Linked DNA regions of Homo sapiens: all the other regions are linked to region 3. Evidence: fine-mapped expression QTL. A gene starts in region 3. Each other region holds a variant in brackets. All regions are shown on one strand. Distances are between the middles of the regions.

Region 1 (8,101 bases), 47 kb after region 3:
GCTCTGGCAGAAATAGAATTCACACGCTCTGCTTCGAAACCGCATTATCGAATTATTCTGCCTCACTAGTTAAACACTAAGTGGTGTGACCAGAGAAGGCGGACTTTAAAAACAAAAAAACAAAAAAAAAAAAAGGAAAGAACAGCCCTACGACTCGCCTCGATTCTGGCGGCGCCCTCTAGGTAGGTCAGGTATACGTATCAGAACCTCCAACCCTGTCCTAACAGCTGTTCAGGTGAAATTAGAATCTGGGCTGCCTCTCCCCTGGGGCCTCCGCGAACACACCGGGAGATGGGAGGAGGGAAGAGCGGGGAAACTGCCCACTCCATCAACTGACGCTTGATTCAATTACTCCGGAGAACTTAAGAACTAAGTGTGGACATAAATCTGTGCCACGGTGGGTACCACCGTCAGATCCAAAGAGACAGTATCTGAGCGCTCCGCCGAGCAGCCCAGGTGCGCGCTGGAGCGCGGGCAGAGACGGCGAGGACAACCCGGCTCCAGGAAGCCCCCGGGACCCTGCTGCGCCCGGCCCTCACCTTTCTGCCGCAGGTACAGCATCTGATGCCGCTGGCTCGGTCGCTCCTGCAGCTCCTGCAGCACGCGGGAGTCGCCGGCACCGCTGCGGCCGCCCAGGACCACGTCGGAGCCCGAGGCCTCGGTGGAGCTGTCGAGGCTGTCGCGGCGCCGCCGGCGGCCCTCGGCCCCGCGGCCCCCGCCCGCCGCCTCCTCCTCCTCTGTGCAGCTGTACAGCTCGTTGAGCAGCCCGCTCACCAGGGACGCCGTGCGGCTTGTGCGGCCGCCGCACGCCTCGCCGGGCTCCGTGTCCTCATCGCCGTCCCACGTGTCCCGGGAGCGCCGCGGCCGCTCCGCCGCTCCCCGGAGGCGCGGGGCTGGGGGAGCTGCAGGAATCGTTTCTTCCTCCTGACTCTCCAGCCTCGCCTCGCCACCGCCGCCGCGGAATTCCAGCTCCGTCCGGAGCCCCGGGCGGCCCCCGCCGGTGGGAAGGACGTCCATGGTCCCCGGCGCGCGGCTGCCCGGCTCCCGCTGCTCCTCCCGCCTCGCGGCGCCGGCCAGTTCCGGGAGGAGGCGCGGCTTCGTCCTCGCCGGTGGTGCCCTCCCGGGCGCGGCGCCAGCGGGCTCTGGATCCCCGAGGTGCCCGGGCCTCCCCCGAGCCGGCACCTGAGCCGCTCCCCTCCGCTCCGGACCGGGCGAGAAGGAGACTGCCACGCCACTGAGCTACCTGGGGCCACCTGCTGCCCGGGCCCGGCCTCTACCCAGAGCGCTCTCCCGTGCGCGAGAAGGCGCAGGACGTGGCCAGAACACCGTTGGGAAGAAGCCAGCAGCACGGAGGGGGAGGGCGCTGAGGCCGCCGCCACCTTCACTTTTAATTAAGCACGTGATTTAACTCAAAAAGAGGGTGACTCTTGCCTCTTATTCAGCCGCCAGCTAGAAATAATGCCCAGGAGGGTTCTAAACGCCCATCAATAGGCCCAGGCCAGGAGCTCCTTCTTGACATACTCGGAACACAATACCAGCCCTTCTCACTTTCCCACCTGATCTGAGCGCCTTCAAAAGCCTTCTTAGTTTAGTCTCTGACAATAAGCTTTCTAAAACTCTGAACACCTGGCAAATATCTGGGACTTAATAACGCTGTGAACTTTTTTCCTCCAGTGAAAACCAAAGCACTGGATTAAAATCAACTAATTCCCTGATACAAGATGTAACCAGAGTGAGGGTTTAATAAATGTTCTTGAGATGACCGAACTGATACATTAATTGAGCTAGTTTTGATGATGGTAGAATCAAAAATTTACAAGATACTGTGAGAGATGTATCTTACACTAGACCTCAATAGAACTCGGAACTGCCGCTCCACTGTAGATATTTTTGTGAAGTTAATAATTGGCAACATGTTTAGCGCTTTTTGTATGTCAGGCACTGTTCTTAGAGATTTGCATGAATTATCCCACTTAATCCTCACTTTAACCCTATAAAGCAGTTAAGTGTCGTTATATTCTCACTTTTCAGCTGAGGGAGCTGAGGCACGAAGAGGCTAAATAACGTGTCCATTCACAAAGAATAAAGTGAACTTTTCATAAAGTGTCTGGCTTTCATTATGGATGAATATATATTAGTCAAATGCTATTAAATACTTGACCACACTTCCAAAAGGGGCAACAACACACCTGGTGAACAACACTGGTGTTTCGTGTTTGTTCAGCACAGTTTTGTCTTCCAAGGCACTTTCATAATAGAGCCTGACCCTGCCGGTAGAAATCTGGTGTACCTTGACACCAGCACTGCAATAAAAGGGCCCTTTTTGAAACTGGAGTTAATATGAGACAAGCAGAAGTTGTACTTTTCGCTTAGGTATTCGGAATTTTAAATTATACTGGAAATATTATTTTATGGTTTTATAACTATATTAATGACTATTGTTACCATTTAATGTTTAAATGTATGAAATGAGAGTAGAATTCATTATTATATTGCTGTTTTGTTTTTTGAGGTCTTTTTCCCTGTTGTCCCTGGCATTCAACGAGTTCCAAGTCCTCCTTCGTATGCCAAACTTTGCAATGAGCAGGACTTTCAGAGGAGTAAACACTGAAATTGGACCTATTTTTTTAATTGGCTTCCCAGCCCTTTTTATCTCTTCCCCCTAAGAAGAGATGTGATTAACTGTTAGTCTTCAGCACTATTCTCATTTAGGGAATCTCCATCAGGAATTACAGGTAAAGAAACTCAAAGTGAGCTGAAGGGAAAAAAGAGACCAAGAAAACAATAGGTTATTGACATTCAACATTTCTAAGTTAATAAGAACTTCAAAATTATTTCCCATTCCCCATCATTACCAAATCTAAAGAGAGGAAAATGGCAAACTAAAAACTAACAAGGAAAGCACGCTTAAGATCATTGTACTTATGGAATGATCTTCCCCTAGATATTGGCATGACTCTGCTCTCACCAAGTCTCGTCTCTGCTTAAATGTCTTCTCTGTGAGCCGGGCGCGATGGCTCACACCTGTAATCCCAGCACTTTGGGAGGCCGAGGTGGACGGATCATGAAGTCAAGAGATCGAGACCATCCTGGCCAACATGGTGAAACCTCGTCACTACTAAAAATACAAAAATTAGCTGGGTGTGGTGGCCCATGCCTGAGAATCACATGAACCCAGGAGGCGGAGGTTGCAGTGAGCCGAGATCACGCCACTGCATTCCAGCCTGGGTGACTGAGTGAGACTCCATCTTAAAAAAAAAAAAAAAAAAAAAAAAAGGCTTCTCTGTGAATCACTCCATAACCACCCTATTTGACATTGCAGCTCCCCATCCCCCAGGTTTTCCTTAGTTCTCTTCCTTGTTCTTTTTTTTCCCATAATACCCTCTTCCCACATACTACAGTATATAATCTACTGATTTATTTTGTTATCTGTCTTTTGCCACTAAAATGTAAGCTTCCGAGCGCAGGAATTTTGTCTATTTTGTTCATTGATATATGCCCATCACTTAGAACAATCCCTGGCACATTGTAACTGCTCAATAAATATTTGTTTAATTAACTAATTGAATGAATACCATGAAAACCAGAGAAAAAAACAACCAATTACCTACTTTCCTAAGAAAAGTTAACTTTAGTAAATATAATCCTAGAAGCGGTATTGGCAAAGGACAGCCGCTTTTCTCACCCTACACTACTGCCACCAGGAAACTGGCAGGCCCCACACAAGTTCCCTGAAGCTCTGGATATAAGAAAGAACCACTGATGGCTGGGTGCAGTGGCTCACGCCTGTAATACCAGCACTTCAGGAGGCCAAGGCAGGTGGATCTCTTGAGAGCAGGAGTTTGAGAACAGCCTGGCCAACATGGCGAAACCCCATCTCTACTAAAAAAATACAAAAATTAGCCAGATGTGATGGCACACACCTGTAATCCCAGCAACTTGAAAGGATGAGGCATGAGAATCACTTGAACCTGGTAGGCAGAGGTTGCAGGGAGCTGAGATTGCACCACTGCACTCCGGCCTGGGCAACAGAGCAAGACTCCTTTTTGGTTCCATATGAATTTTAAAATAGTTTTTTCTAGTTCTGTGGAGAATGTCAATGGTAGTTTAATGGGAAAAGCATTGAATCTATAAATTGCTTTGGGCAGCATGGCCAATTTAATGATATTGATTCTTCCTATCCATGAGCATGGAATGTTTTTCCATTTGTTTGTGTCATCTCTGATTTCTTTGAGCAGTGGTTTGTAGTTTTCCTTGTAGAGATCTTTTACCTCCCTAGTTAGCTGTATTACTGGGTATTGTATTTTTTTGTGGCAATTGTGAATGGGAGTTCATTCCTGATTTGGCCCTTGGCATGACTGTTGTTGGTGTTTAGGAATGCTAGTTATTTTTGCACATTGATTTTGTATCCTGAGACTTTGCTGAAGTTGTTTATCAGCTTAAGAAGCTTTTGGGCTGAGATGATGGAGTTTTCTAGATATAGGACCATATCATCTGCAAACATGGATTGTTTGACTTCCTCTCTTCCTATTTGAATGCCCTTTATTTCTTTCTCTTGCCTGATTGCCCTGGCCAGAACTTCCAATACTATGTTGAATAGGAGCA[G/A]TGGGAGAGGGCATCCTTGTATTGTGCCTGTTTTCAAGGGGAATGCTTCCAGCTTTTGCCCTTTCAGTAGGATATTAGCTGCGGGTTTGTCATATATGGTTCTTACTTTTTTGAGGTATGTTACTTCAATACCTAGTTTATTGAGAGTTTTTAACATGAATGGATGTTGAATTTTATCGAAAGCTTTTTCTGCATCTGTTGAGATAATCGTGTGGTTTTGCCTTTAGTTCTGTTTATGTGATGAATCACATTTATCGATTTGTGTATGTTCAATTAACCTTGCATCCCAGGGATGAAGCCCACTTGGTCCTGGTGAATGAGTTTTTTGATGTGCTGCTGGATTCAGTTTGCCAGTATTTTGTTGAGGATTTTTGCATCAATGTTCACCAAGGATCTTGGCCTGAAGTTTTTTTGTAGTTGTTGTATCTCTGCCAGGTTTTGTTTCAGGATGATGCTGGCCTCATAGAATGAGTTAGGGAGGAGTCCCTTCTTTTCAACTTTTTGAAATAGTTTCAGTGGGAATGATATCAGCTCTTTTTTGTACATCTGCTAGAATTCAGCTGTGAATCCATCTGGTCCTGGGCTTTTTTTGGTTGTTAGGCTATTTATTACTGCCTCAATTTCAGAACTCATTATTGGTCTGTTCAGGGACTGAATTTCTTCCTGGCTCAGTCTTAAAAGGGTGTATGTGTCCAGAAATTTATCCATTTCTTTTAGATTTTCTAGTTTATGTGCATAGATGTATTCATACTATTCTATGATGGTTGCTTGTATTTCTGTGTGTTCAGTGGTAATATTCCCCTTACCATTTTTCACTGTGTTTATTTGAATCTTCTCTGTTTTCTTCGTTAGTCTACCTAGTGGTCTATCTATCTTATTAATTTTTTCAAAAAAAACTAGCTCCTGGATTCATCTTTTGAATGATTTTTCATGACTATCTCCTTTGTTCACCTCTGATTTTGGTTATTTATTGACTTCTGCTAGCTTTGGGATTTGTTTGCTCTTGCTTCTCTATTTGTTTTAGTTGTGATATTAGGTTGTTAACTTGAGATCTGATGAGGGTGTTTAGTGCTATAAATTTCCCTCTTAACACTGCCTTAGCTGTGTCCCAGAGATTCTGGTATGTCATATCTTTGTTCTCATTAGTTTCGAAGAGCTTCTTGAGTTCTGCCTTAATTTCATTTATTTACTCAAAAGTCATTCAGGAGCAGGTTATTCAATTTCCATGTAATTGTACAGTTTTGAATGAATTTCCTAATCTTGAGTTCTAATTTGATTGCACTGTTGTCTGAGATATTGTTATGATTTCAGGTCTTTTGCATTTGCTGAGAGGTGTTTTACTTCTGATTATGTCACTGATTTTACAGTAAGTGCCACGTGGCAATGAGAAGAATGTATATTCTGTTGTTTTCATGTGGAGAGTTCTGTAGATATCTATCAGGTCCATTTGATCCAGTGCTGAGTTCAGGTCCTGAATATCTTTGTTAATTTTCTTTCTTGATGATCTGTCTAATATTGTCAGCAGGTGGTTAAAGTCTCTCACTATTATTGTGTGGGACTCTAAGTCTCTTTGAAGGTCTCTAAGAACATGCTTTATGAATCTGGGTATTCCTATGTTGGGTGCATATACATTTAGAATAGTTAGGTCTTCTTGTTGAATTGAACCCTTTACCATTATATAATGCCCCCTTTGTCTTTTTTTATCTTTGTTGGTTTAAAGTTTGTTTTGTTAGAAACTAGGATTGCAACCCCTGCTTTTTTCTGTTTTCTATTTGCTTTGTAAATTTTCCTCCATCCCTTTATTTTGAGCCTATGTGTGTCATTGCACATGAGATGGGTCTCTTGAAGACAGCATACCACTAGGTCATGGTTCTTTATCCAACTTGCCATTCTGTGTCTTTTAATTGGGCATTTAGCCCATTTACATTTAAGGTTATTATTGATATGTATACATTTGATCCTGTCATCATGATGTTGTTAACTGGTTATTTTGCAGGCTGGTTTATGTAGTTGTTTTATAGTGTCACTGCTTTGTGTACTACAGTGTGTTTTTGCAGTGGCTAGTAACAGTCTTTTCCTTCCATATATATCTATATCTATATCTATATATATATATTTTTTTTTTTTTGAGACACAGTCTCACTCTGTCACCCAGGCTGGAATGCAGTGGTGCAATCTCGGCTCACTGCAACCTCTGCCTCCTGGGTTCAACCAATTCTCATGCCTCAGCCTCCCAGGTAGTTGGGATTACAGGTGTGCAACATGACACCCAGCTAATTTTTGTATTTTTAGTAGAGACGGGGATTCACCATGTTGCCCAGACTGGTCTCAAACTCCTGGCCTCAAGTAATGTGCCCACCTTGGCCTCCCAAAGTGCTGGGATTACAGACATGAGCCACCATGCCCGGCCTTCTTTCCATATTTAGTGCTTCCTTCAGGAGCTCTTGTAAGGCAGGTCTGGTAGTAATGAATTCCCTCAGCATTTGCTTGTCTGAAAAGGATCTTATTTCTCCTTCGTTTATGAAGCTTAGTTTGGCCAGATATGAAATTCTGGGTTGAAAATTATTTTCTTTAAGAATTCTGAGTGTTGGCCCCCAATCTCTTCTGGCTTATAGGTTTTCCTCTGAGAGGTCTGTTGTTAGTCTGCTGGGCTTCCCTTTGTAAGTGACCTGGCTTTTCTCTCTAGGTCCCCTTAACATTTTTTCTTTCATTTTGACCTTAGGGAATGTGTTAATTATGTGTCTTGGGGATGACCTTCTCATGGAGTATCTTACTGGGGTTCTCTGCATTTCCTGAATTTGAATGTTGGCCTGTCTAGCTAGGTTGGGGAAGTTCTCAGGGATGATATCCTGAAATGTGTTTTCCAAATTGGTTCCATTTGCCCCATCTCTTTCAGGTACACCAATCAGTCAAAGATTCAGTCTCTTTACATAATCTCATATTTCTCAGACGTTTTGTTCATTCCTTTTCATTCTTTCTTCTCTATTCTTGGCTGCCTATCTTATTTCAGAAAGACATTCTTCAAGCTCTGAGATTCTTTTCTCTGCTTGATTATGCTATTAATACTTGTGATTGCATTATGAAATTCTTACAGTGTGCTTTTCAGCTCTGTCAGGTTGGTTACATTCTTCTCCACTCTGGCTATTTTGTCTGTCAGCTCCTATGATGTTTTATCATGATTTTTAGCTTCCTTCCATTGGGTTACAATATCCTCCTTTAATTCAGTGAAGTTTGTTCCTATCCATATTCTGAATTCTACTTCTGTCATTTCAGCCATCACAGCCTTGGCCTGGTTCCAAACCCTTGCTGGAGAGGTGATGCAGTCATTTGGAGGAAAGAGGGCATTTTGCCTTTTTGAGTTTTCAGCATTCTTGTGCTGATTCTTTCTCATCTTTATGGGATTATCTATTTTCAATCTTTGAGGTTGCTGACCTTTGGATGGTTTTTGTTTTTGTTTTAACAGCTTGATCACTTTTCTGTAGGGCTGCTGTGGTTT
Region 2 (8,101 bases), 52 kb before region 3:
TCATTTGGTCTCACCAGAGCAAACGACCAGGAAGGAAGCAACCTTCAACGTGATGGTATTTGAAGGCGGGGCCATTGGGAGGTAATTAGGTTTAGATGACACCAGGAGGATGGGACCCTCATGATGAGGTTAGTGCCCTTATCAGAAGAGGAAGAGACCAAAACATACTCCCTTTCTCCATTGTGTGAGGACACAGTGAGAAGGTAGCCATCTGCAAACCAGGAAGAGGGCCCTTCCTCACCAGATACCAAATTTGCAGACACGTTGATCTTTGACTTCTCAGCCTCCAGAACTGTGAGAAAGAAATGTCTGTGTTTAAGCCACCTCAGTCTATGGTACTTTGTTACAGCAGCCTGAACTGAGTCAGACATTCAGCATTGGGAGATGGCCAGCAGGGAACGGCATGAAAGCTGACCCAATACCTACAGTACCAGTCCCCATTCAGGTGAGCACTGGCTGCCTTTGTGGAAGAACCACTCCAACAGTTCTGCCTTCAGCCACTGTCCAGCAAAGGCCTCCCATCCATCACTGTATCCTGGTGGCTCTATGACTGTAGACTTGCTGACTTTACTCTGAGCTGCCTGATGTGGATAACAGATAACTCCCACTTCAATGGTCCAAATACTCACCGGCCTTCACATTTCCATCCTGGGGATGAATCATAATTCATCCAAACATCTCCCCTATTCCCAGATGTTTATATTGTTTTCAGGTTTCCATTAGTACATTTAATACTTCAATGAACATTTGCACATAAAGCTTTTACTGCATAACTTCCAACTCTAAAATATCTGGTATTCTTTGACAAAACCTAGTAATGGCTATTTCTTTGAGTTCAGGATACCAAGTCTCAAGTACTATTCCCTTCTCAAAAGATACAATTAAAGTTCTTTTTATGAAATTCAATACCTGTTGATGAAGAAAACTCTTAGCAAGCAAAGAATAAAAGGGAATTTTCTTAACCTAATAATAGGCACCTACCAGAAACCTCAACATCTTACTTAATGCTTCTTTTAAAAGTCAGGAATGAGGTATGGGTGTTATGAGTGTTCATTATCACTGCTTCTAAAACACTTCTGTTGGCACTTCCACACTAGAAGTCATAGAAAGGAAAAAAAAGGAAAGAGACTGCTGCCTCTTCCAGGATGTAGAGAAGCAGGCATTCTCATTCACTACTTGTATAACTCCAACCTTTAAGAATGGCAATTTGGAGATATATGTATCTTAAAAATGGACATATTTCCTGACCCTTCAACTCCACTTCTATACGCATATCCTAAGAAAATAATTCGGGCTATGTACATACATGTAACAGGATACTGTCTCTACTACTATCTAATCAGAAACCTCCTATTTGACAAGGTACTGGTTATGTGAATTCTGGCATGAACACATTAGGGAATATTAGTCACTAAAAATCATATTGTATAAGAGCATTTACCAGAAAGACAGCTTAAACTACCATGTTCAACATAACTTTTTTGTAGATAATGGCGTGTACACACATACACAAACGTACTGGAAAGATCTATATCTATATCAGAGTATTGATGATTCTTTATGCTCTTTTTGTTTTCCCAATTTTCTAAAACCTGTGACTTTTCTAATTAGGAAAAATAATATATTTTAAATGCTGCAGACAGCAAAGAAAGTGGCTCAGAAACGATGTAAAGAGAGTTTTTATATGGGGAGATGGCAGCAACTATACATCTATTCATACAGAATCCTTAATGCCATGCAGCTAAACTATATTTATTGTTCATTTTATTAAGACAAAAATAAATAGTAGATCTAAAGGTTAATTTTAGGTAAACTCTCTAGGTAAACTCTGTGCTTACTCATATTCAGGAACCAGCGAGTCTGCAAATGCTGGGCAGGTCACAGGCCACCCTGCAACCCAGCGATTAGACTGGGGGAGATAGAGCTTATTGGGCTGTTTCCCTGGTTCATGTGACCAAGGGGGGTCTGGGGTTGGGGGTGAAGGAAGAAGGAAGAAGGGAGAAGGGACTGTCACAACAGTGTTCCATGCTTGCACTCAGAAAATGGCAGAACAGTTACAACAATGAGAATCTTTATGCATATAGCTTTGTGATCAATACAATCCTTCAGAACAACAAGAGACAAACAAAGGAATACAATGTCCCAAACAGCTGCAGTCCACAGGCTGACATTGCTAACTAGATTTAGATCATCTGGAGGCTTTTGTAAGAGGAACTGAGGTGCAGAGGCATCAGAATGAGTTGATTCCCGGCAAAAGGGCTAAGAGGCTACAGACATATCTAAAAATCAAGAAACCACTACTTGTTAAGTACTTCTGGTGTTTGCATACAGTGTCCAATACATAGGGAAGATAGCAAGTCCATACTGGTCTTTGTACATGCTGTGTGGTAGAGGCTACTGCAGGTTTCTTTATTTTCTAAAGTAGGCAAGGCTCATAAATTGACCAATTCACATTGTGATTACTTGGTACAATGCATGCATGTTATTGGTACACAGAGTGCTTTAATAGGAATCTGTTGGATTTTCAAAATTCTGACAAGGCCATTTTTACCTCAGAGGACTATTATCCTTTCACTTATTCATTCATTCAACAGATACGTATCCCAAACTGTGTGTTACCTCATCCATCCCCTTCTCAGGAAGACCAACCCTGGAAATAGGTGAGAGGAGAGTGTTCACAGGGCACAGCATGTGTTGTTGATACTAAGTTTGTGGACAGCAATGGTACAATCCCAAGGACTTGTATAAGTGGCCTCTACCTCATTAACCATTTCCTTGAACCCAGACCATCAGGGAGCTAGTGAGCTGATTCAAGAGAGGAAAGAACAATTCTCCATTCAAGTCAGACATCCCTCAAGGGGAACATGACTATTCTGACTCATTTGAGAAGGGGCAAAGAAAAGGATATGAGGTGGAAACACTATTATCTGTAAAGTTTAGCTGATGGAAGAAAATGGTGTCATTTGCTTAACTTTGGAAAATGCAGTGGGTCTCTGGGCCCTGAGGGTGGTATGCAAAATAAGCCCATCTCTCCACCTACAGCCTTCCCAAAAAACAGGCTGTAGGCGTGGCTGCTTTTTAAGAAGCTGGATGCTAACTTCAGATGGCACAGAATTCAAGACCAAAACTGCAATAACTTATTAGTCATATTTTCCATCTTCAGTTCCTTTGGGGGTAAAAATACCACGAAGAAGATAAAATGGCTTTTCTCACGGTATAGGTCATTGTTGTGTTTTCTGTTCAAAAAAAGCCCACACAACCACATTCTCTATTATAAAAAGTAGTACCTCTCATAGTAAAAGCCTGCTCTACAGTTACAGTTTTCGTTTCAGAATTAACAATCCATTAGCTCAAATTAATATTGGCTGCATCAACAATATTCCTGCAAGTATCGCCAATCGTCTTCCAGAGACAAACATGAAGGCTGAGTCTATTCCTCTAATGATGGCGAGGAGAAGGGGATTGAGGAGTGAGCCTTCTGTTCAGCCAAATAACAGGTGCATGAAGCATTTTTAAAATAAACTCCCTGTTCAGGATAAGGAAGTCAGAGCTGGTTTTGTAAAATGCCATCAAGGGACTCTGTACCATCTGGAGACAGGTCCTTTGAGTCAGGAGGGATTTTAGTGAATGGCTTCCCAGTCTTGGTTTTTACACGCTATGTAGCCAATACATCTGTGTACAAAGAGCATTAAACCCACCTATTGCACTGAAGGAAATGTGGCTAAGTCACTTGGAATACCGAGAGTACTGACCTTGAGTAACTGAAGTGCTACTTCACCTCTGTGTGGCTCAGAGTTCCCATCTGCATAGTGGAGACAAGAGGTGCTATCCCTGACCCGCTGGGTGAGAGAGAGCTAGAAAGGGCAGGAGTGAGAGGGAGCTAGAAAGCACTGGGGCCTTCTCCAGAGAAAGGCAGTGTTCAATTAACAAAGTACTCAACAAAGGACTCCAATCAAAAAGCACAAAATTCAAGTAACAGAGTCACAGGTGCTGTGTTCTGGCTTCTGAGCAGAGGCCTTGTGCGTCTGCAG[T/C]CTAGAGCTGGTGGGTGAGTGAGCTGTGTGGTGGGGGATGCAGGCCAGGCTCCGCATGGAGCCCATCAAGTCATCCGTACCACTGAGGATCAAAGCTCTCCTTGAGAGGCGAACACAAACCTCAGGAAAAGCTCAGTGGCGCGAGCAAGCTGTCCGGAGCAACTGCGTAAAGCATATGCCAAGTGTGTCCTGTGCATAAGATCTTCAGCTGGGTTATCGATTGAAATTTCAACAGATGAAAGGTTTTCTTCATTTTGCAGGTAGAAATAGACAGTTAAAGAAAGGCTATCTAGATTTTTCTCCTATGATTTAGCATAAGAATAAAAAAAAAATTTGAAACTGGTACTGTGGGAAATCTCACACGACACAATCCCCTCCGTAAAGCATGAAAAGGAAAATCAGGAAGTTTTTTGTAACGAAGAAACTTACTTTCTTTTTACAGTTTCTGTCCTAGCAAGCTGGTATGTGCATGCTTGAGTATTAGTAACACCCAGAGAACTGGAAGGTTTGGGGGTGCTGTCACAGGGACTCTGAAGGCCCCCAGAACAGAAGGATGGACGAGAGTTAACAATCTAGATATAGTCTTTTTTAAACAGCTCACAATGAAAAATTGGGAAAACTTCACACTATAAAACCACAATATTTATTTTGCCACAAGAATCCACTTCGTCAGTTAGCAAGTAGCTGGGAAAACAGCCCTGTTCTAACTCCTATTATAAAACTTCCAGTTCCCATTTTTTATGGGCTGTTGCTCATCCCTGAACCTATTCATTTTCACTGGACAAATAAAACTCTTTTAGAGCCATTCAGCTGCAACCCTTATACTACTGTGAAAAGGTGAGTCCAGATACAAAGTTTCGGGGAGACATCATCGTTTTTTAGTGCCACTGTTTCCACCGCCGGGTTTGCTGAAGCTCCTACTCATTTGAGGAAAGTGCACAGTTGGGGTTCTTTCTGTAGGGCCATATAATCCCAAGTTCCTGGCAGTAGCAGATTTCCGCAGGGGCTTGACGCTGGGAAAAGGGCTAAAGATGGGGGTTTTTGAGTTGCTGCCTTGGGGAGCTTTGCTGGTGGCTTTGTTTTCTTCGGGTGCACTCGGCGGCTCTGGGCAGTGCCGCTGGCAGGGTGGGTGCACCCTGAGCTCAGTTTCAGCTGCAGCATCCCTCTGGTTCAGTTCCAGGGCTCCCAACTTCGCCTGAACTGCAGACACATCCACATCAGCATCTCCGAACACCGGCTCCGGAGACTGCCCCTCGATCGTCCTCCTGGTACTGCCTTCAGGGCTGCTGCCTTCTCTCCCAGCTGTCGCTGTACAACCAGAGGGGAATGCCTCTGCTGCCCCCAGCCCATTGGTCTTGCTGGCCTCGTTCTGCTCATCTATCAGCCCTACGGTGTCCCCACAGCCCGGATGACTCTTGGTCCTTGGCATGTTCTTTTTGTGGACTCGGATGTGAGTTCGCCACGGGGAGTTGAGCTTCGTCTTAAGGTCTTCGTAGGGGACAGGAGATATTTTCCCTCCTGTGTGACCAGGGATGTGGATGACAGCATTCTTGGCAGCTCTGTTAGTCATTTTCATCTTCTTTCCTAAAAGAAGGTGGTTTATAACTGGAGAACTGTTTACCTGAGACGGGAGAATGCTGGTCACTGGCCCTTTGTCTGAAAGAAATGTTGAAAGGTAGTATGAAGTGTACCACAAAGAAACACATCCATCTTGGAACAGAAATCACTTAGAGGTCCTCCCAGCCCCGTCTACCACATCCCTTCCCATGTGTTCCCCAGGGAGGGGCAGAGTCATGTGACTGAAGACAGCAGAAACTGAATTCAACCGAAGAGCCTGGAATACCAATGCGCTCTTCTTTAAAGAGGAAGGGACCACAGGGTGATGATACAAAAAGGAACATCTGACCCCTCATTCCTAATCAGAGCCTGGACTCCCTAATTTTTTTTTTTACAGAGAGCTCTTGGCTCTGAGTAGCAACCTCTGAGTTACTGTACTTAGAAAAATCTTTGCAGATTTAAAAAAAATAATACAACAAACACTATGACCATATGGATTATCATCTGTCAGCCTCTGAGAGGTAGGAAAAGAACACACTGCATATTATGAAGTGAGATCCAGCAGAATGACAGAAGTGATAAAAAGGTAGTGAGAATGCAGTGAAATCACAGCTATCCAGCATCTAGCCCTACAGGTGAAAAACCACTCCTGTGTCCTCAATGGACTTCGAAAGCCAATTGAAAACTGAAAAGCACCAAAAGCTTTGTCCTCAGCTAGGTGCCGTGGTTCATGCCTGTAATTCCAGCATTTTGGGAGGCCAAGGCAGGAGGATCACTTGAGGCCAGGAGTTCGAGACCAGCCTGGCCAACATGGTGAAACCCTGTCTCTACTAAAAATACAAAAATTAGCCAGGTGTGATGGTGCATGCCTGTAGTCCCAGCTACTTGGGAGGCTGAGGCAGGAGATTGCTTGAACCCGGAAGGTGAAGGTTGCAGTGAGCTGACATTGCGCCACTGCATTCCAGCCTGGGCAATACAGTGAGACTCCTTCTCAAAACAAACGAACAAAAAAGCTTTGTTCTCCTAGAAGGCACTGTCGATGGCATTATCATTGACCACCTGCGGCTATGACCAGACTCCTATTTCCAATGCAGCATTCAACACACATGGTCCCAGGATGGCAGCTGCAGACAGAAATTGTAGGGAGAAGGCCTCTCCCTCTGTGTGCGAGTTTCCTTCTTCCTTGATGTCCATGTCATCTGGCTGAACTAATTTCCACCCTTCTCTACTGTTGTCATTTACCACTGGTCATACCCCAGTATCAACTAAAAATGTTGATAACTGTCTCCTCTTCACCACATTCCTGCCACCTCCCCAATTATTTGACTGTCACTGTGATTGGCCCTCCATTACATTCTCATAGTTCCTCAACCTCTCCAGTTCCATCCTAAACATTATCACCCAGCTCTACCTTATGTGAAAATATTTAATTCTAATACTCCTCATTTTGGCTCTTCTAGCTCTCAGGCTCTCAGTCTAACTATATGTGGTAATGAACCACAGAGACTTCTGGCTCCTTGTTCCTCAGGCTCCTCACAACCCCTCATGTGTCTTCGGCTCACTGACACCCCTACCCTGCCAGATGCATGGCTGACCGCTTAGATCACTCCCTCACAGGCATCCCTGTCTCTTTGTCACACATTGCTAGTAAAGCCCCAACCTAGGGTCCATGATCTACATTCTCTTTTCTGAAACTGAGCCCTTTAAATTCATGACCTCCCATTTCACTGGGTCCTCAATGCCAAACAATCTTTTCATTTCCCTTTCTCGCTCCCTTCAGTGACCTAACTAAATCTTCATTACTTTCTTTAACCTCTCATTTACTCCCAATCCCCACCAAACAACTTTCCCCCAATTACTCCATGAAAACAAAAGCTATCAGATCTGAAAGGCCTCTATTTCCCATCCTCCCTAACTTCGGAAGCTGATACCTCAACCACCATACTCACCACCTTCCACTAAGTCTCAGAAGCTAAGGTCTTTTTGCCTCTAGTTCAAGTTCAATCTCTCCACCTGTGCTGCTAATCCTATCATATACCATCTCATCTAAAACCATGCTACTCAAACCATGGTTTCTGATATGGTTTGGCCATATCCCCACCCAAATCTCATCTTGTAGCTCCCATAATTCCCACGTGTTGTAGGAGGGACCCAGTAAGAGATAATTGAATCATGGGGGTAGGTCTTTCCCGTGCTGTTCTCATGATAGTGCAGAAGTCTCACAAGATCTGATAGTTTTAAAAATGGGAGTTTCCCTGCACAAGTTCTCTTTGCCTGCTGCCATCCACGTAAGATGTGACTTGTTCCTCCTTGCCTTCCACCATGATTGTGAGGCCTCCCCAGCCATGTGAAACTGTAAGTCCATTAAGCCTCTTATAAATTGCCTAGTCTCAGGTATGTCTTTATTTGCAGTGTGAAAACAGACTAATACAGTCCCCATGCAGCAGCACCAGCAGTGCCTACGGGCTTGTTAGAAACATATAATTTCAGCTCCATTCCAAACCTACTGAAAC
Region 3 (8,101 bases):
AGAACCTAGAACATTACTTGGCACAGAATAATCAATAAATATTTATTGCATGAATGAATAATCAAGACAGGTTTTCAAGTAACTAAACCTAGAATATATTTTTTGACATTCCAGAGGCTCTAAAGAAGGGCAGTGATGATCCTTCTGTATTCTAGCCCTATGAGTCCTCCTTACCTTTCTCCTCCATTCCTTTGGTATTCCTGTGGATAGCCTGGCAACTGCCTTGAGAGCATCGTACCACTAGGAACAAAGAAGAAATCCCAGGAGGTGATCACAGTGACCTAGATAAGCACTTTGCAATCTTTTTCCCATCTTGACATTCATAGAATGTGCTGAAATTTGCACAGCACAATGGGGTAAACAGTCAAAGCTTCTTTCAGACAGAAGTGATCAGTCCATGGCTATTACTGTGCCACGTCCCACCCCTTGGGCACCCTTAACACATCTGTGACCCCTTTGCAGTACAAACAAAATGGTTGGGAAGCTCTGGTTAATAAGCCAAAATATATATTATGGGGTTCAGAATAAAAGACATTATGGTACAGGTGTGAAATTTATTCATTTTAAAATTTTTCACACATGTACCATTAATAGAAAGTGCAAAATTTGTCACTGCAAATATAAACCCAGGCCACTTGTAGCTCAAAAGCTACTTTAACTGAAATATTGTTGAAGTGACTCATCTTCACATTCATATCAAAGAATACGTTATTTCCACTTTGAGAATATATCTCAATGTGCCCTGTTGGTAACCCCAAAAGAAGAGTGTTTTCAAAATCAAAGTTACCTGCTGAAAACCATTTTGACCTAAAGATGGCTCAAGAGTGAATTTCAACTTGGTATCAACTCCTGAAAGAAAAATACATAAATAGATGTTATTTTTGGAGACTATAACAAGTTATATCAAAAATACTAGTAAAAGCTTGATTCTACTGAATCATCACAATTTTTTTTAAAGTATGTATCTTTACTAAATTTTAGTCAATTTTGCCAAAAGGTAAGCATATTGATTCTTAAAATAGGAAAATACCCTACAGCAATAGAAAGTGCCTTACTACATATGACGGTGGTTTACATAGATGCCTGGAGTACCACAAAAGCAAAAACAAAAACAAAAAATGACACCACAGGCTTGGAGTCATACAGTCCTCCATTCGACTTGGTTCCTAGACTGAAACAATTTATCTAACCTATCTCAGTCTCAATTCCTTTTCTTCTTTTTAAGAGATACAGTCTCAATATATCACCCAGGCTGAAGTATAGTGGCTATTCACAGGCACAATCATAGCACAATGCAGCCTTGGATTCCTGGGCTTAAGCAATCCTCCCACCTCAGCCTCCCAAATAGCTGGGATTATAGGCACGTGCTACCACGCACAGCTAATTTTTGTATTTTTTGTAGAACAGGGTTTCGTCATGTTGGTCAGGCTGATCTGAAACTCCTGATCTGAAGTGATCCACCTGCCTCAGCCTCCTAAAGTGCTAGGATTACAGACATGAGCCACGGCACCCGGCCCCATTTTTTAAAGGAATTATTGCCCAAAAGTTCAAGGACCAAGAAATGCCAAATACTATCAATAACATTAAGTTTTACAAATTTCAAAAGTCAAATGATGGCATTTTTGTTTCTAAGATTGTTGATTGTAGATTAGGTGTACTAAAAACTTCTCCACAACTTCCACTTCTTAGTGGTTGGTATGAATAGGAGCAATCTTCAGAATTTATGAAATAATAGTAAGTAATCAAGTAGACTGGTCTTTTAAAAAATATATATATACACGGAGTCAAGAAGCTGGAAAGAGATGTATCTGATTTTTGCAAGCCCATATCAGTATGCAGGTGTTCTTGGAACCCTGGAAGAGCGCTGTAAATTCCTGAGTTGGGTCCTAGGTTTCCAAAGTAAGCTGTGGCAGAGAATCCCAGGCATCCAATCAATGCCTTGATATTTCTTTTTAAAGCTTCAGGGCCATAACCATACTCTGCCTGGATAGATAAGTTTTTTTTTTCTCCGAAGGAATATTAAGTACCACATGGATCCGCCTCTCTCTGAGGTGGTTTAAACGAAGTCCTGCCCAAACATAGAACGGTGATAACAACGGCCACGGGAGTGTTTCCAGCCCAGCGCACGCTTTAAGGCACGCTGAAAACAAGTGAGGTTGCTGTCCGGACGCGAGGTGCTGAATGGAGGAGCGTATAATCATGACGTTTGCTTGATAACAAAGACCAGGAAATTCGGTCCCGCGCTGACTTATTCTTGCCACACTACAAGGATTCCCTGTATGTCTGACCAATATGCTCTTCTGACTTTTCCGGGGCACCTGCTGGGCATCATGCCGATTGCCTTCTCATAGTGAAACCCAGCAGGGGTTAGTTGGCCAAAACCACAACTATCCTCTCATGATCAAAAATGAGCAAGAGGATTTAACTGAAATTGATTCGCCGCCTGCATGCAAAAGCTTAAACCAGGTCACTTTCACCCCACTTTTCTTTTCTTCTAACAGAATACGGGCAGAGAGAAGGTTTATGTTTCATCTGATAATCACAGCTATTCCGGATTCAGAAATACAAAACACTTACTTTTAACGTGGGAAGGAGATTTAAAAGAAAAAAAAAAGAGGTAAAGGAAGATGGTGAATAAATACTACAGCCTCTGCAACTAGACACTTCCTAGGGGAGAACAACAAAGAAACCACGAGGTTGGGAAAGGCAGTGCCGCATCCCACCCTTTGGGACTCTGCAGCTCGATTCTCCTGCGGCTCTACAGCAGGTCCCCAAGGCGCTGGCGCTGGGGGGCGGGGGCCGGGGACCGTGAACCCGCCTGGAACGCAGCCGGTGCCACTCCAGGGAACAGGTGAGCGCCAAGCACCAGTGAGAGTACAGCCAACTCCCTCTGCAGCCACTCCTTGCCAGAAACCTCCGTGCCCAGGAGCCCGCGCTAGGGCCAGGCTCTTAAAATCCCGGGGAGGGATGCCGGGTGATGGAGCCGACACGGAGTTATGCAGTCTGGAGAAGCAGGGATGGGTAAACACAGGCTGACAGTGGGAAGGGCCTTGCCTAGCACGACCAGGCTCGTTCCTGGACCTCACCTATGAAAAGGATCTCCTGCTGCTCCCCACTCGCACTCACAAATTACAGGCTCCAGTTCGAGCTGACCCCGGCACTCACGCTGAAGGGACTCTTGGGAAAATAACACCCGATTTTGCCTTTGCAGCCACTGTCTTCCTCCTCCGACCTGCAGTGTCAAACCTGTGCCACTCTCCGCCCCCACACACCTCTCGCAAGGTCTGGCTTCCTGCGAGCCTGGAACACAATAGGTGGTGCGGCCTCTGAGGGCCCGGGCAGCCACCCGCACTTCCCCGCCACGCGGAGAAAGCCGAGCACACAGGCCGCAGGGTGGGGGTCCGCGGGGAGAGGGTGGAAGCAGCGGGTTCTCCGCGCCTGGGGTGGCCGCTGCCCCACCCAGGCCCCCGTCTGCCCTCTACCCTTCCAGACCAATCGCTCCCTGCAGGTGCCAACGCGGTGCCCCGCACCAGGTGGCACGCGGACTTTCCCCAGAGCTCCCCGGCCTAGACGGAGTCAGGCTAAGGCAGAAGCGCGGGCAGCCCCGGCGCTACTTTACAGCGCCCCATCTGCAGCCCTGGGGTCCTCACCCGGCTCCAGGGTGCACAGCAGCCGGGGCGCGGTCCGGGAAATGCAGCTGCGCTTCTTGAGCACATTGCTCAGGATGGTGCCCACGCCGCCGCCCTGCCGCTTCAGGCATCTCCCCCCGCGCCTCAGAGACCCGGTCAGCTTGTCCTGCCGCATCCGAGAGCGCCCCGGGCTCTGGCACGGCTACCGTCCGTCTCGGTCCCCGCTACCCCACTCGCTGAGCGGCTGAGCTCGCGGAGCTGGGTGAGTGTCTGCGGCTGACCGGCCCGTGGGAGCAGGGAGCGCACAGCCGGCTGGTGCTGGAGGGTCACGGGGACTTACGGGGCACCGCGGGAGCCGCCGAGCGCAGGGAAGCCAGCAGGCATCTGCAGTGCGGAGCCTGCAAGGCTGAGGCAGGAGATCGCTCGAGGCGGGGAGGGCGGGAGCGAGCGAGCGAGCGAGCGCGTGGGAGACGGAGGCGGCGTGCCCGCCCCCAATCCCGGCACCGCCGTGCGCAGGCGGGGCCGCCCCAGCTCCCCCGTGCCCAGAAGCGCCAGAGACAGGGAGCCAGTGGGCGCGTAACTGCGTTCGGGGACCAAAAGCAGAAACAGAGATGTCCGTGCTTCTCCCAAGATCTGGGAGGGAACAGAGGGAGCACCAAGGGGCGCCAGTCTCAGGGGCAGAACACCCGTAAGGGCAAGCATCCTCTCCCACTTCCGAGCAGTCTCAGAAGGGGCCATGACCCAACCGCAGGCGGCGAGGCACACGCTTCAGCCCGAATTGCGTTGAATTATTTCCTGGCAGATTAGAGAGGCGCGGAGAAAATGAAGGAAAAAAAAATTATTGTTTCTTTTAGAAAAATGGGCTTCCAGAAAAAAAGTGTTCTCTTTTCAAGCAGTATTAAAAAGTAATGTTCCTCATCTCTCCAGCCAGACTTCAGTAGTTCTGAACTATTGCCCATCATTATGGTTTAAAAAAAAAAAAGTCATTCTCAAACGGCAATATTCACCAATAGACTATTTACCATTAAAATGGATGAAAGAAAGGGTGTGGGGGGGGGATATAAAGATACTTGTGTTTGCTAATATTTATAAAAAGAAACACTAAATGGATAAACCAAAAACAAATTAGAAAACTTGTATAGGAGAAGGAACATCGTGGAGGAGACAAGAATGGAAAACTGAGTCCTCTCTTGATGTGCCTCCTGTAGTTTTGGCTCTGGAATAACACTATATTAATAATATTAACAAATTAAATTTTTAAAAAACCAGGATGATGGAACAGCATGCCTATAGTCCCAGCTACTTGGCAGGCTGAGGTGGGAAAATTGCTTAGCCCCAAGAGTTTGAGGCCAGCTTGGGCAACATAGCGAGACCCCATCTCTTAAAAAGACATAAAAATAAAAATAAAATTTGAAAATACATAAAATAGTCTGGGCACGGTGGCTCACACCTGTATTCCTAGCACTTTGGGAAGTCAAGGCAGGAGGATGTCTTGAAACTAGGAGTTCAAAGCTGCAGTGAGCTATGATTGCACCCCTGCATTCTAGCCTGAGCAACAGACCTAGTCCCTGACTATAAATGAATAAATTATTTTTAAATTGTAAAAGAAAACCCTAACAATTGAAAATTAATGGAAACAAATCAACCTAATGGACTATCCCACTTATAGCATAAGAACACAGAAAAAAATAATTCTCTCTTAAGTTGACATAGAACACAATATTATGACTGTACATCAACAGTTGTACATATTCCCAGAGCAAATAAAACTGCAAAGAAACCTTACATTTCATTCAGTAGTATTATTGTTATTAATAATATTCATATTTCTTAAATTCTTATATCCACTACAGGATAAAGCAAATAAATAAGTATGCTAACATCAAATGGAGCCAAGATGTTTTCAGTGTAATAGAAAATATGTGTATAACCAAAGTAATTAAGTTTTCTTTAAAATATTACAATTATATATTTATATGGGAAACACTAGTATGAACTCATTTTTTTTTCTTTTCAAAAAAATACATACATTCATTGAATAGGTTTAGAAGTAAGGACAACTCAGCAGCAATGAACACCCACAGCACCCAGGTTATGGTCTCTAAAAACCATTCCCCACTCAAAGGAACTAAGGCTCCTTTGAGGAGTGACTGATTCCAGGTTTGGGACAGAAAAAGTACAAGATGACCCTGAAACATTTTGATGAGCTCAAAAAGAAAGGAAATGTTTCACAATTAATGGGGTCAAGTCAAAAAGACACAAGAGTCACATAAATAGGCTCCTTCCTATTGGCCAAAGATGAAACAATTTGAACTTGAAAAACAATGGCTGAGCCTGGACAACATGGCAAACCCCCATCTCTACAAAAAAAAAAAAAAAGCTACAAAAATTAGCTGGGCATGATGGCACACACCTGTAGGCCCAGCTACTCAGGAGGCTGAGGTGGGAGGATCACCTGAGGCCAGGGAGGTCAAGGCTGCAATGAGCCATTATCGCACCACTGTACTCCAGCCTGGGTGATGGTGAGACCCTGCCTCAGAAGTAAAAACAAAAACAAAAAGCAATTAATTGCTGGGTCAGGTGCTGTGGCTCAGGTCTGTAATCCCAGTGCTTTGGGAGGCCAAGGTGGGACAATCACTTGAGGCCAGTAGTTCAAGACTAGTCTGGGCAAAATAGCAAGACCCTGTTTCTGCAAAAATAAAATAACTTAGCCAGGTGTGGTAGTGTATGCCTGTAGTCCTAGCTACTTGAGAGGCTGAGGCAGGAGGATCACTTGAACCCAGGAATTCAAGGTTACAGTGAGCTATGATTGGCCACTGCACTCCAGCCTGGGTGAGAGAGCAAGACCCTGTATCAAAAGAAAAAAAAATGGCTGCTATTGATTGAAAAAATATTGAATATTTTTAAATGCCTTCATAAAGATAGCCTAAACAAGCCAGAAAAAGAAGGCATTCCTATGACGCTTCCCAGAATTTGAGGACAATGTCAGAAATGGTGCAACCCTAAGAATGAGCTGTAAAAGAATCTATTAAAAATGAGATGAGCCATCTGCAAAAGTAAAGCAGGCTAATAAAGGACATGCAAGCTATTCAGTTGTAGCTGCCTGGCAGAGGTAAAGATGCTTTCAAAAGGGCAGTACTCTTTGAAAAGGCATCACTTTAGAAAATGAAGTCACTGTTTAAGCTGGTCATGACTAATTGCTTGGCTTAAATTTCCCAACCTTTTGCTGCGAGCTCCGGTACAGAAATTTATCCTCCATCAACCATCAACTTTTTACAGTTTTGGTACATGTTTGTATCCTTCAGCTTTGTATTAATTTTAATAAGACACTCATTGGCTGTTGCAGCCTATCTCAGTTGTACTGAGAGCCATAGGAAGAGGTCTGATGCTTCCCTTTGACCAGTTTTTTAGAGGGCACAGTATACCCTGGGGCTGAAGATGGTGATGAACACCCGAAGTCAAAGAGAGGGAACTGGCAGGAGAGGGAAAATCCAGCAGGACAAGTTGGTAACTGCATGCACAGTCTCGTCTTCCAGACCTCTCATATGCTCAAATCTTAGAGGGTTTTGTGTTCTATTTTAACAAGAGAGGCTATTCATGCTCGGTTTCCATCACTAGGCAAGCCAAGAGGACAAGCAATCAGCTCTGTTCTACAACACTGTCTCTGGAGTGGAGAGGAGGACGTCCTGCCCCTGGGGCTGTGACATATGCCACTCAGACCATCCAACTCCCTTTGGCTCTGACGTCATGCTCACCAAGCAAACTTTGGATTGTCATTTGATTTCCCATATAGACTCTGCTGCAGCACAGAGAATATACTGACCAGTTAATAGCAGTCAATACCCCTGAGTTCACTTACCAGTCAGTAACCTGAAGACACCAAATTTCCAGACTGCCAAAGCTGACATCTAGACTCTAGGCTGTCAACTCACCCATGTGTCATGACTGATAAAAAGACCTCTCTTTAGATTCTTCTTTACTTGTAATACTTTTCTTTACTAGTAGTGACAGAAGCTTGTTTGCTTGCAAAAGGAACATTCAATTTCACCTCTTTTAGATCTATTACGAGGAAAATCTAACTCTGTTTTTAAAATAAAATTTAAGAGTTTCTGCTATGATGGCAATAAACAGCAAAGGAATTAGATAATATTATTTTGTTTACATTGGAGAGGAAAGTCAGGACTGCCAACTTTTATAGCAAACAGATAATTACATGAGCACTAAAACACAATACTCTAAAAGCAGCGATGGCCCAAGCCTAGTATTATGTTGATTGTGTGACTCACAGTTTTTTATTTCATGTCTGGAATATTGTTTTACAAACGTGAAAGATGTCATCTAAAGTCAACTTACAGAGAACTCAAGCCAGCATGGACTTTGCCTGAGAATCTCAGGAGCCAGGCCAATTTACCATTATTCTTTACTAATCAAGCTTTACCAATCAAATAATAGTGAATTCACATTTGGGCAAA

The links.
Region 1: its variant is fine-mapped to the expression of TBC1D30 in whole blood (TOPMed, PIP 0.98).
Region 2: its variant is fine-mapped to the expression of TBC1D30 in tibial nerve (GTEx, PIP 0.98). The same link has a PIP of 0.9 or more in stomach and visceral fat.

Annotation. Positions count from the first base shown.
Region 1 is chr12:64,773,725-64,781,825 of GRCh38, reverse strand. It overlaps a transcript of TBC1D30 not described here. Among named protein-coding and RNA genes, the nearest start is that of GNS, 18 kb to the right of the region's middle. RefSeq lists silencers at 796-895, 976-1,255. The variant G/A (reference allele first, on the strand shown) is at 4,606.
Region 2 is chr12:64,872,587-64,880,687 of GRCh38, reverse strand. TBC1D30 (TBC1 domain family member 30) reads right to left here. Exons shown (of 12, transcript NM_015279.2): 12 at 1-5,687. The coding sequence ends at 4,900. Among named protein-coding and RNA genes, the nearest start is that of LINC02389, 7.1 kb to the left of the region's middle. RefSeq lists enhancers at 7,742-7,841, 7,872-7,951. The variant T/C (reference allele first, on the strand shown) is at 4,032.
Region 3 is chr12:64,820,583-64,828,683 of GRCh38, reverse strand. TBC1D30 (TBC1 domain family member 30) reads right to left here and starts at 4,037. Exons shown (of 12, transcript NM_015279.2): 1 at 3,651-4,037; 2 at 788-849; 3 at 175-240. The coding sequence starts at 3,804. RefSeq lists enhancers at 1,105-1,154, 2,832-3,339 and a silencer at 3,978-4,217.